Linked DNA regions of Homo sapiens: region 2 is linked to region 1. Evidence: fine-mapped expression QTL. A gene starts in region 1. The other region holds a variant in brackets. All regions are shown on one strand. Distances are between the middles of the regions.

Region 1 (5,000 bases):
CTCCAAGGCAACAGCAGAAGCAACTTGTAAAGTTTGAACTTAGCTTGGGTGTGAATGATCATTATTAGCGAATACGACACGCTGACCTCCATTTCCAACCTCAAGCAGAGCTTGAAGGGTGCCACTTCCGGGGCAGCAGGCAGATATGCCACTCTAGGGGAATACCTCAGCTGGTAAGAGTGGATCCTGGTTCTTTAAGCCCTGCCAGGAACAGGGGTGGCGTAGAAGGGTTACACCCACTTCATGGCTGAGAAAACTGGAGCCGAGAGAAAGGAAGTAAGTTACTCTAGGCCACAAGACCAGAGAGAACGGAATTGGTCCTAGTTGGCCTCCTAGGCCCAAACTCCCCCAAGCCATAACTCCTGTGGCATCAGTAGCTGGAGGAAATCACCTAATCCCGAGTCTCCAAGCCATACAGGAGGCTGGGAGAGCACTCTCTTTCAGGCACCCATCTTTAGCTCTGTAGTACAGAGAAGCAAGCAAGGCCCAGAGTTGGAGCTAGCAACTTGCTCAAGGTCAAATAGCAAGGGTGGCCAGGTGGCCTCCCCTAACAACTGCTCTGCCCGTCCACATCTCCATGCTGTCCTATCACGGAGCTCTGTGTGAACGGGTCTTGAGAGTCCCGTCGCTGAGCCCCGTCCGCCCCAGGCACGCAATGCATTTTGCAGTTAACATAACCCCCCACACCCACCCATGAGAGCCGGCCAACCCCTTAAGTCCAGTGCCCCAAGCACCTACCCTGACCTTGGTCTAAGAGCCCCAGGGATCTGTTTGCAGGAAGAGACACTCCCTTTTGCAGATAAAAACAAAGTCAGACCCTGGGGGCATGAGCAGACTCAGCCAGGAAGAGAAGCCCCCCTTCCTACTTCCCCACACCCCACCCGAAACAAGCAGGCTCTGCCCAGCGCAAGCAGAGCTTCCCAACGTGTGGTGCCTGGAGGCCGCTGAGGGCCGGACCACCAGACTAGGAGAGAAGACTCCCTAGTGACCTTGGTCAAGGAAATCCCTTTGCTTCTGAGCGCCTCAGTTGGCACAGCTATAAAATGGGGGTGGAAATCTTTCCTTCCCACAGCGCCCAAATAAAACCAGAAGAGTCCAGAAGAAACCAGGTGGTCACACTAGTGGGGGAGGAAACCAGGGTCCTGGGGAAGGGGGGGCTCCCCAACGCGGGCCAAGTGCACGCTGTGGGGCTCTGGGAAGCTTACCCAGCCACCCCTCCCCAGGCATAGTGCTGGGGGGCCGAGGCGCGGACACAGCCCCGAGAGGGGCCTCCCTCGTCCGCTTCCTACTCTTTTGCGCCGCTCTCGGAGGGACACCGGGGGCGGGAGGCGAGACTGCAGCGCAGGGGCCAGAACGCTGCGACTTTAAGAGCCGAGGATCCCGGACCATGTGCTCGGCGTGAGACAAAAGCAACAACAAAGGAAGTGGCGGCCGCAGGGGGAGGGGGGCGGCTCCTTCCTCTCCAACCGCAGCGCTCAGCTGCAGGAGAGGGGAGATACGGCCCGGCCACGGGGGGCCTTGGGGGGGGTTCCTGATCCCTGGGGTCTCGCTGCCCGCAGTCTGGACCGCCCGTGATTAACCCCTACGGAGCCACCTAGATCACGGCCCCCATTCCCAGGGGAGGGGAACAGAAGGTCCATGGGTGGGGGAATAGGAAGTTGGGGGCCCTGGCACCGACTCACCTTTGGCCGCCCGGCCACACGTTGACTCCTTTGTTCCCGATCTAGGACGGCCAAACTGGGCAGGGGGCGGGGGAGGGGGGGGGTGCCTGTCTGGATCCTTTAAGAGCTCCCGCCCTGCGGAACAATGTGCTCCCCTCCCCACCCCCGGGTCCGGGGGCAGCCCGGCTCCTTCCGGGGCCTCTCTCTTTGTTGTCCGCCCGACGGCGTCTGCCTCGCGAGGCCCACGCGCGATCAGTCTCTCTCGGCCCAGGCCCTCAGGGAGCGGGAGGCGGCGCAGGACGCAGCTGGGTCTGCGCGGCAGCCGGCGGCTGGCCCTTTAAGAACTGTCCGCGGCGGCAGCGGAATGTAACAAACCCCACATTTGATTCACAACATTCGAAGCGGCGGGGTCGCGCGCCAGACGGGAGGGGGCTCGCGGGGGCGCGCCGGGAGGCTCCGGCAAACAGTAGCCCGCTGCAAGCCCGCAGGGGCCCCGCCCCGCGCCGGGAGCTCCGCCCTGAGAGCCAATCACTCGCCGCGACCACGCACGTGACTAGTGGGCCACCATCTTGAATTTTTTTAACCTCCTCCTCGCCCCCACCTTCGCACTTAAAGGGACCGCAGCCATAGTCAAAAGCAAGGGGCGGGGCCGCATATCCTGACATAAAGATGGGGAGACCCCAGGGTGGGCAAAACCGATCGGCTGCAACTCGAACTTGCTATGCAAACTCGCTAACTACTCGCGCCTCTGAGGCTCAGTTTCCCTGCCGAAGAAATGGGTCCCGCCAGGAGAACCGGCAGTACGGACTTACTGTGTCATGGTCCCCTCCTCGGGGACAGGGTGCCGCCTGAGATACTGAAGTGCAATGGGTCTGACCTCTGACGGGGCGAGAGCGGCCCAAGTGGTTATGCTGGCTCTAACAACCCTGGGCCGGCCACCTTCCCGGAGATGACGTCACCCCCAAGAGCTGCAGCACCGCGCTGACATCATGGCCCGGCCGCCCCACTTCTCCTTGTTTATACTACACGGCGTCTTTAAAAAGCTGGTACGGCCCAGATTGCCCAACAGACCAATGGCGGACCACCCATGCAAACGAGCTAACGTCTGCCGGGCAAGGAGATTGGCCCTGCTCGCGCTGACGTCACAGAGACATTTAACCGCCACGCCCCCAGCGTGGCGGTGGAGGAAGAGAGGCGGGGAACAGGTTGTAGTTTAAAGCAAAAGTGCAGGCGCTGGGCGCTCTAGCTGCTAGGCTGGGCTTGAGAGTTTGGTGTCCCCGCGGAGACCTCCCTAGCCAGGGAAACTGGGAACTAAGCCCAGTGAAGCGTCTATACTTTAGTTTTCTATTCCTCTCAGCAGCTATGAGACGGAGGGATTACTATAGCCAGTTCATTTTACAGATGGGGAAAGTGAGGGCCTTCCCTTACTCCAGATCACACAACTAGAAGTGTGGCGGAGCAGGAGTGTGAACCTAATCCAAAGCCGAGCCTCGTTCTCCTTTGCCTCGAAGCCCACCCACCCGGGCAAAATTTATACAAAATGGGGTATTACCTCCACCACAATTATATAAGCAGAAAATCAGTAATTTGCTAAATATCCAAGAGCTGGAACAGGTCGAATAATGAATATTGGGTGCATGCATATAATCAATAACGACTCTTGGGCAGTTACCACAAAGAGGCAGCTGGAGGCGACACGGGGCTATCTCCAAGACAGCCATAAACAAGGCGCCAATGCAAAATGTTAACATCTGTTAACCTGTGTGGTGGGCCATGGGGCAGGGGGATGGGGGGCTCATTTTCTATGCTGCTTTGGTATATTTCGTAATCCTAAATTTTATATAAAAATTGAAACCAAGATGCTGAACAGTTCTAACAGTATGTATCAGGTTTCTTTAATTGGACATATGCCACATCTGCATATATTTCTGGAAGGGTATACAGGAAACTGATTAACAATTGTCCTTAGGGAGAACTGGAAGGGAGAAGTTGGGTCAGTAGGATAGACTATTGTATATATTGCACATTAGCTCTTTTTTAAAAACCCTATGCATTATAACCCACTGAAATTTTTAAAGAAAGCTATTATAAAGACTATGTCTTAAGTCTTTTAAGCCAGAAAACCTTTTGTTCCCTTAGAATCAGAAACCCCCTTTCAGCTTGGGGAACAGACATGTTTATGGCAATGTTTAGACCAGCAATGATCGTATCACTGTGCAACACAATGACTGAAGATGGAACTGAGCCGGCTGTCGGCAGATCTCTAAGCAACACAAGAGCAAGGTCATGATGCAGTGCTATCGATGCTCCCTGGAACGCCAAACTCTATCCATCACAGTTAAAAATTACATGTGCATGAGAATAAGTGTGGCTATACAAGGTTATGTCTTTACCCAGTTCCTTATCATCAACTGTTCCTTTACCTCCAATGTCTCCTTCAACCTTTTGTTTTCCCCACCACATAAAAGCAATTTGAAAACCCTCCCCATGGCCGGGCACGGTGGCTCACGCCTGTAATCCCAGCACTTTGGGAGATCCAGGCGGGCAGATCACAAGGTCAGGAGTTTGAGACCAGCCTGACCAACATGGTGAAACCCTGTCTCCACAAAAAATACAAAAATTAGCTGGGCATGGTGGCATGCACTTGTAGTCCCAGCCACTTAGGAGGCTGAGGCAGGAGAATCGCTTGAACATGGGAAGTGGAGGTTGCAGTGAGCTGAGATTGCGCCACTGCACTCCAGCCTGGGTGACAGAGCGAGACTCCGTCTTAAAAAAAAAAAAACCCTCCCCACATTTGAAGGTACCTACATATTTGTTAGATTACTGCCTGCCTGTCCTTATGGATAGGGCCTACAGTGGCTCCCTACTGCCAACTGCATGGAAGCCTGGTTTTGGGGCTGCACTTAACAAGCTCTTCCTGCCCGAACTTTTCAGGCTCGCCTCTCCCCAGTCCCTCCTCTCACACCATGGTGGTGCTTCGTCTGGCTTTCTCTCCCTGCCACCTTCCTGCCTTTGCTCAGGCTAGACTGCCTGCCTGGGATGCCCTCTCTTTTCCTTTCTGCCAATCCATTTCACTTTTCGGCGGTTTGAAGCTCTGTTCCTAACTCACCTTTTACAGGAAGCTGCTTGTGACATCTCCAGCTGTGCTGAATCCCCCATTTTTGAACGCAGAGCTAGATGCACCCCAGCCTTTACCTCATGCCATTTAATTTGCACACAGTCCTGTCACAATCGCTGTGTGTCTCACTCAGTAATTCCCCTCCTGGCTGAAGGGGTTTGGCTTTTTTAAGTGCGCAGACGTCCAGCCTTCACTGGCATATACGGGTACCCCAGCCTCAT
Region 2 (5,512 bases), 130 kb before region 1:
AGGAGGCGACAGTCAGGGCCAGGCTTGTCTCAGTCTAGCTCCCTAGAATCCCTCTCCTGAGGGGCCCCTCTGCTGGGCCCACCCATGAGAACCTCTGTGGACCCACACCAGCCAAGCGTGTGCTGCGACTCCAGGGATGGCCAAGAGGATGAGCCACATCCTTCTTTGGGATTGATCAGCTAAATCTAAGCTAAGCTGAGCTGCTGATTCCTCTAAGAAGCTAAAAGGAGGATGATGGGAGTATTAGGGGAAAGGAGAGAGGATCTGTGCAGAGGTGGGGAGGCGGAGTCCTGCAGGGCCCTTCTGTCCCTGCCCCTGGCTGTGCCAAATGGAACTGGAATAGTTGTGGGCAGGCTCGTCCTTAGGCTGTATTGGCAACTGGGTTTGTAGCTGGACCCGCTGGTGGTGCACGGGCTGCAGAAAAGAGGAAGAAAGGAAGCACAAAAGCTCTGTCTGGGATCCTTGAAAGTGTTGGGTGTGCACAGGCCAAGGTTTCTCCTCCCCCTGCAGGTGCAGGCCAGACCTGCTATGCTCAATCCTAAAGAGCTGGGGCTTTCCACCTGTGACCCAGGCGCTGTGGCCAGCCAGTTCCAGCAACAGAGTCGTAATGCAAAGCACACCGGGTCGGAGCCCAGGAGATGTAGGCAAGCTGGGGCTTTGCCACTAAGCTTCTGAGTGATTCAGCTCATCTGTGACCCTGCCCTGCCTGTAAGGATTCTCGGATGGCACTGATGTGATATGATTTACAAATAAACACACCTGCTGTGATTCTTAGTAACAGTGAGAATAAGAGTTCTCACTCAGATTGGAAAGGAGGCCCCGGGCTCCTCAGATTCACCCACAGCTCACCCACGGCTGACAGGTCGGGAGGGAGAAGGCGGGGGGCCAAGTCAAATGGGGTGCACTCCAGAAGTGGCTGATTTCCTGGGTGACTTTGCATTCACCACTTCACCTCTCTGAGCTTCGTGATGCTAATCTTTAGGAAAGGTAAATGATCCAGCTCAGAGTGTTCTAGGTACTTTCTTTTTTGAGACAAAGTCTCGCTCTGTCGTCCAGGCTGGAGTGCAGTGTGCGATCTCAGCTCACTGCAACCTCTGCCTCTGGGTTCAAGCAGTTCTCCTGCCTCAGCCTCCTGAGTAGCTGGGATTACAGGCAACCACTACCCTGCCTAGCCAATTTTTGTATTTTTAGTAGAGACAGGGTTTCTCCATGTTGGCCAGGCTGGTCTTGAACTCCTGACCTCAAATGATCTACCCACCTCAGCCTCCCACTGCTGGGATTACAGGCGTGAGCCACTGTGCCCGGCCATGTTCTACATACTTCTGTGGTTCCAAGCATATCTCCAGCTCCAGGTGCACTTTAGGACACAGAACTGTGGGGTCAAGCAAAGTCCTTCTGAATGTGGCCAGAGAGCCTGGGCAGCCTAAGTCTTAATGATCTACCAAGCTGCACAGAAGCAAATCCTCATTCTTTGACTCCCTCGGGCCCAACTAGACATGAAGCTGCTGAAGTCCTAGAGATGGACTTTTCCAGCTTGCTGATAGTTGAGTAATTTTCCAGAAACAGGACTTGGCCAGTCTCCCTGCATAAGGTACCAGCCCATCCCTCTTACATAAGAAAATAAGTATTGTTTACTCCCCCAGAGGATTCAAGAAGCCAGCTCCTCCAGGGCGGGGCTCAGAAGATCCCACAGCCAAAGACCCCAGGATCAAGGCTCTTTGGCCCAGTCTGAGTGGGAATGAAGGCTCTGAGGGGAGGTTTAGCCCCACCAGGCATCTGGCTGGGGGGCCGAGGTGAGGACTATTGCATGCCTCTGTGGTCTGAGTTCCCTCAGAGTACTAAAATGGATTTGTGTGTATGCAAGGGGAAGAGAGTTAGGTGGGTGCGGACAGAAGCAGTCTTAACTAGAAATACACTTACTAGGGTTTTCCTCTTTTTTTTTTTTTTAAGACTGTCATGCCGGGCACGGTGGCTCGTGCCTGTAATCCCAGCACTTTGGGAGGCCGAGGTGGGTGGATCACTTGAAGGTCAGGAGTTCGAGACCAGCCTGGCCAACATGATGAAACACCATCTCTACTAAAAATACAAAAGATTAGCTAGGCGTGGTGGCGGGTGCCTGTAATCCCAGCTACTCAGGAGGCTGAGGCAGGAGAATCACTTGAACTCAGGAGGCGGAGGCTGCAGGGAGCCGAGATCGTGCCATTGCACTCCAGCCTGGGCAATAAGAGCAAAACTCCATCTCAGGAAAAAAAAAAAAAAAAGACTCACCCAGGCTAAGTGTAGTAGTGTAATCATAGTCACTGCAGCCTGGACCTCCCCAGCTCAAGCTGTAATCCTCCCACCTAAGACTACTGAGTAGCTGGGACTATAGGCACACACTATTGCCCCAGCTAATTTTTCATTTTTTGCAGAAATGGGGTCTTACTATGTTGCCCAGTTTGGTCTCAAACTCCTGGATTCACATGATCTTCTCACTTTGGCCTCCCAAAATCTGGGATTACAGGCGTAAGCCGCCGTGCCCGGCTGGGTTTTCCTC[G/A]TTTTTTGCAGGATAAAAACACTTAAAGAATTTGTAAACAACCCAGTGAAAGTGAATGCCCCTTTCTTATCCCCATCCCACCCCACCCTTGGGGCTAACCATTGTTAACAGCTGGTACACATCCTTTCAGATATGTAGTGCAAACCTTTAGTTTTATTTTTTTGAGATAGAGTTTTGCTCTTGTTGCCCAGGCTGGAGTGCAGTGGCGTGATCTCGGCTCACCGCAACCTCCCACTCCCGGATTCAAGCTATTCTCCTGCCTCAGCCTCCCAAGTAGTTAGGATTATAGGCTTGTGCCACCACACCCAGCTAATTTTGTATTTTTAGTAGAGGTGCGGTTTCACCGTGTTAGCCAGGATGGTCTCAATCTTCCAACCTCATGATCCACCTGCCTTGGCCTCCCAAAGTGCTAGGGTTACAGGCATGAGCCACCACGCCCAGCCCAAACATATTTTTAAAATTGAAAAAAAAAAAAAAAAAAAGGACCATACTGTGTATATTATTCTGCAAGCTGCTTTTTCCACTTAATATATTGTGGACATCTTTTCACGTCAATACAGGAAGATCTGATTGCCCTTTTTTTTTTTTTTTTTTTTTTTTCAGACAGAGTTTCACTCTCATCTCCCAGGCTGGAGAGCAATGGCACAATCTCAGCTCACTGCAACCTCCACCTTCTGGGTTCAAGTGATTCTCCTGCCTTAGCCTCCCGAGTAGCTGGAATTACAGGCACCTGCCACAATGACTGGCTAATTTTCTGTATTTTTAGTAAAGACGGGGTTTCACTATGTTGGCCAGGCTGGTCTTGAACTCTGACCTCACGTGATCCACCCACCTCAGCCTCCCAAAGTGCTGGGATTACAGGCGTCAGCCACTGCACCCGGCCCTGATTGCCCTTTTTAACAACAGCCTGGTTTTCTAATCTATCTATTCAGTTCCCTGATGCTGGACACTTAGGTTGTCTCCAAATTGTCTGCCATTATAAATAACCCTGCAAAGAATCTGGGTGGCCTTGTCCAATTATTTCCTTTGGGAAAATTCTGGAAGTGGAATCTCTGGATCAAAGGGCCCGCCCTGTGTGTGGAGATGGCCTGGGTTCTGCCTCCCGTCAGTGGTGAGGGAAGGCCTTGCGCTGCCTTCATCTCATGCTGCTGTGGGCCACTTGACCTCTCCCTCCCAAAACCAGACATCACCATGGGCAACCTGAGGCTACTGCCCATCAATCTCGATCTCTAGTGGTCCTTATTCTTCTTCCCTGCCCTCTACATGACAAAAAAAATTCCAAAAACCTTTCTCTATGTTTCCACCCCAATGCATCAGACATAATGAACAGGAGAACCTGGAGCTGTAAGCCTACAACAATGAGGCTTTAGGTTACTGAGACCAGGGCTGTTGGTCCTTACCACTGCTGAGACAGAGCCTTGCTTACCTGAAACACATCTCCATTGACTGTGGTCCCCATGTCCTCAGAACCAGCTGGAAAGAGAACAAGGAGATAGCATTACTCACTGTTTAGCTTATAGCAAGCAGGAAATGGTCCTACATTAGCCCCTCAACCCAAACTCTGTGTATACCCATGTATATATCGACCCACATGCAAACAGACATAATGGATATATATATAACTTAGGCTCAATCCCACCCCTGACTGTTTATAAAGCCTCTCACAGCCATTAGTACATTTTATGTTCACCACAGCCCTGCAATGAAATTGTTGTCAACCCATTTTACAGATACTCAAGCTGAGGCTCAGAGAGGCCATGCTCAAAATCACCCAGCCAGTAATAGCTCCTTACCTACCTGAAATCACTGACCCCTGGCCATGGCTGGGAATGGCCAGATTACCTGTGAAGCCTGTGCCTGGTGAGTAGGCTGAGCTGCTGTAAGCTCAGGGCAGGGGCTACACTGGATAAGGAAGAGAGGGGCCTACGCGTCTCTGCCTGTCCCTGAGGCGCCTTGAGCAACTGCTCCTCCTGGGTGAGCAGGAGTTGCAGTTCCCACCAGAAGCACCTGGCATATTTTTTCTCTTTGTGCCCCTCCCAGAAGGAATTAAGTTTGCCCTCAGCAGTGACTCCTCCCTGTCCCTTTCCTTGACATTTGATTAGTCACAAATTCCTGGGGCTTCTGCTACAACACTGACATTCACAGTTGCCCTCCACTCTCTCCCGCAGCTCAGCCCCAGCCCAGGACCTCACCACCTTGCACCTGCACAACTGCTTTGCCCGCTAGGGGCAAACACCTGGGAAGACATAACTGTGTCTCTTTCTCTTCTCCTGTGTCTTTCCCAGAGACTTGCATGCACCTGTGACTTTGCAGGTGCTCAATAATTATTTGTTGAATAAACAAGTAAATACATGCATGAAAGAAAGACAACGACTGCATGGCTTTTGCCCATTCACAGGCCCCCTTGACTCCAGCCTCTCCCATCCCTCTTTCAAACCAATTGCCAGGGCTGACAGTCTGTAAAACATGCACTTACCTGTGCCTCTCCTCTGACTCAAAATGTCATGAAAACAAACTCCAAAGAAATCCACTTCCCATGGACCACAGTGGCCTATAGCGCCTACTCCTGCCTTGGGGACTTTGCAGGTGCTGTTCCCTCTGCCTGGAAGGCTGCTCCCTCACTCCCTTCAGCTTCTGCTCAAATGCTGCCTAATTAAAGGCCTCCCTGACCACACCCCCATCCACCCCTTGGGCACCCCTTCCTATTCCTCCTGCAGTATTAAGCGCACTTACTACAGCCTGCTGTGTTTATTTGTGTATGTGTTTATTATCTGTCTTCCCCCAACAAACAGACCCTCCATGAGGGTGTGGACTTGGTTTCATCCATGATGAGGCCCACCTACAACAGTCCCTGGAACATAACAAGGACTCAATAAATATTTGCCAGATAAGTACATCTAACCCTGGAACATGAGGATCTCTACAATCTGGCCCTGCCCATTCCTGACTCACTTCCCACCAGCCCATCCCACAAAC

What was found. PIP is the estimated chance that this variant, and not a neighbour inherited with it, causes the effect.
Region 2: its variant is fine-mapped to the expression of RNF44 in whole blood (INTERVAL, PIP 0.96).

The regions. Positions count from the first base shown.
Region 1 is chr5:176,535,258-176,540,257 of GRCh38, forward strand. RNF44 (ring finger protein 44) reads right to left here and starts at 2,145. Exons shown (of 11, transcript NM_014901.5): 1 at 1,683-2,145. LOC124901143 (a long non-coding RNA gene) reads left to right here and starts at 2,672. Exons shown (of 2, transcript XR_007059071.1): 1 at 2,672-2,866; 2 at 3,801-4,040. RefSeq lists silencers at 1,639-1,828, 1,909-2,168 and enhancers at 2,279-2,718, 2,959-3,138.
Region 2 is chr5:176,406,295-176,411,806 of GRCh38, forward strand. CLTB (clathrin light chain B) reads right to left here. Exons shown (of 6, transcript NM_007097.5): 2 at 3,963-4,009. It also overlaps a transcript of ARL10 not described here. Among named protein-coding and RNA genes, the nearest start is that of CLTB, 7.5 kb to the right of the region's middle. The variant G/A (reference allele first, on the strand shown) is at 2,537.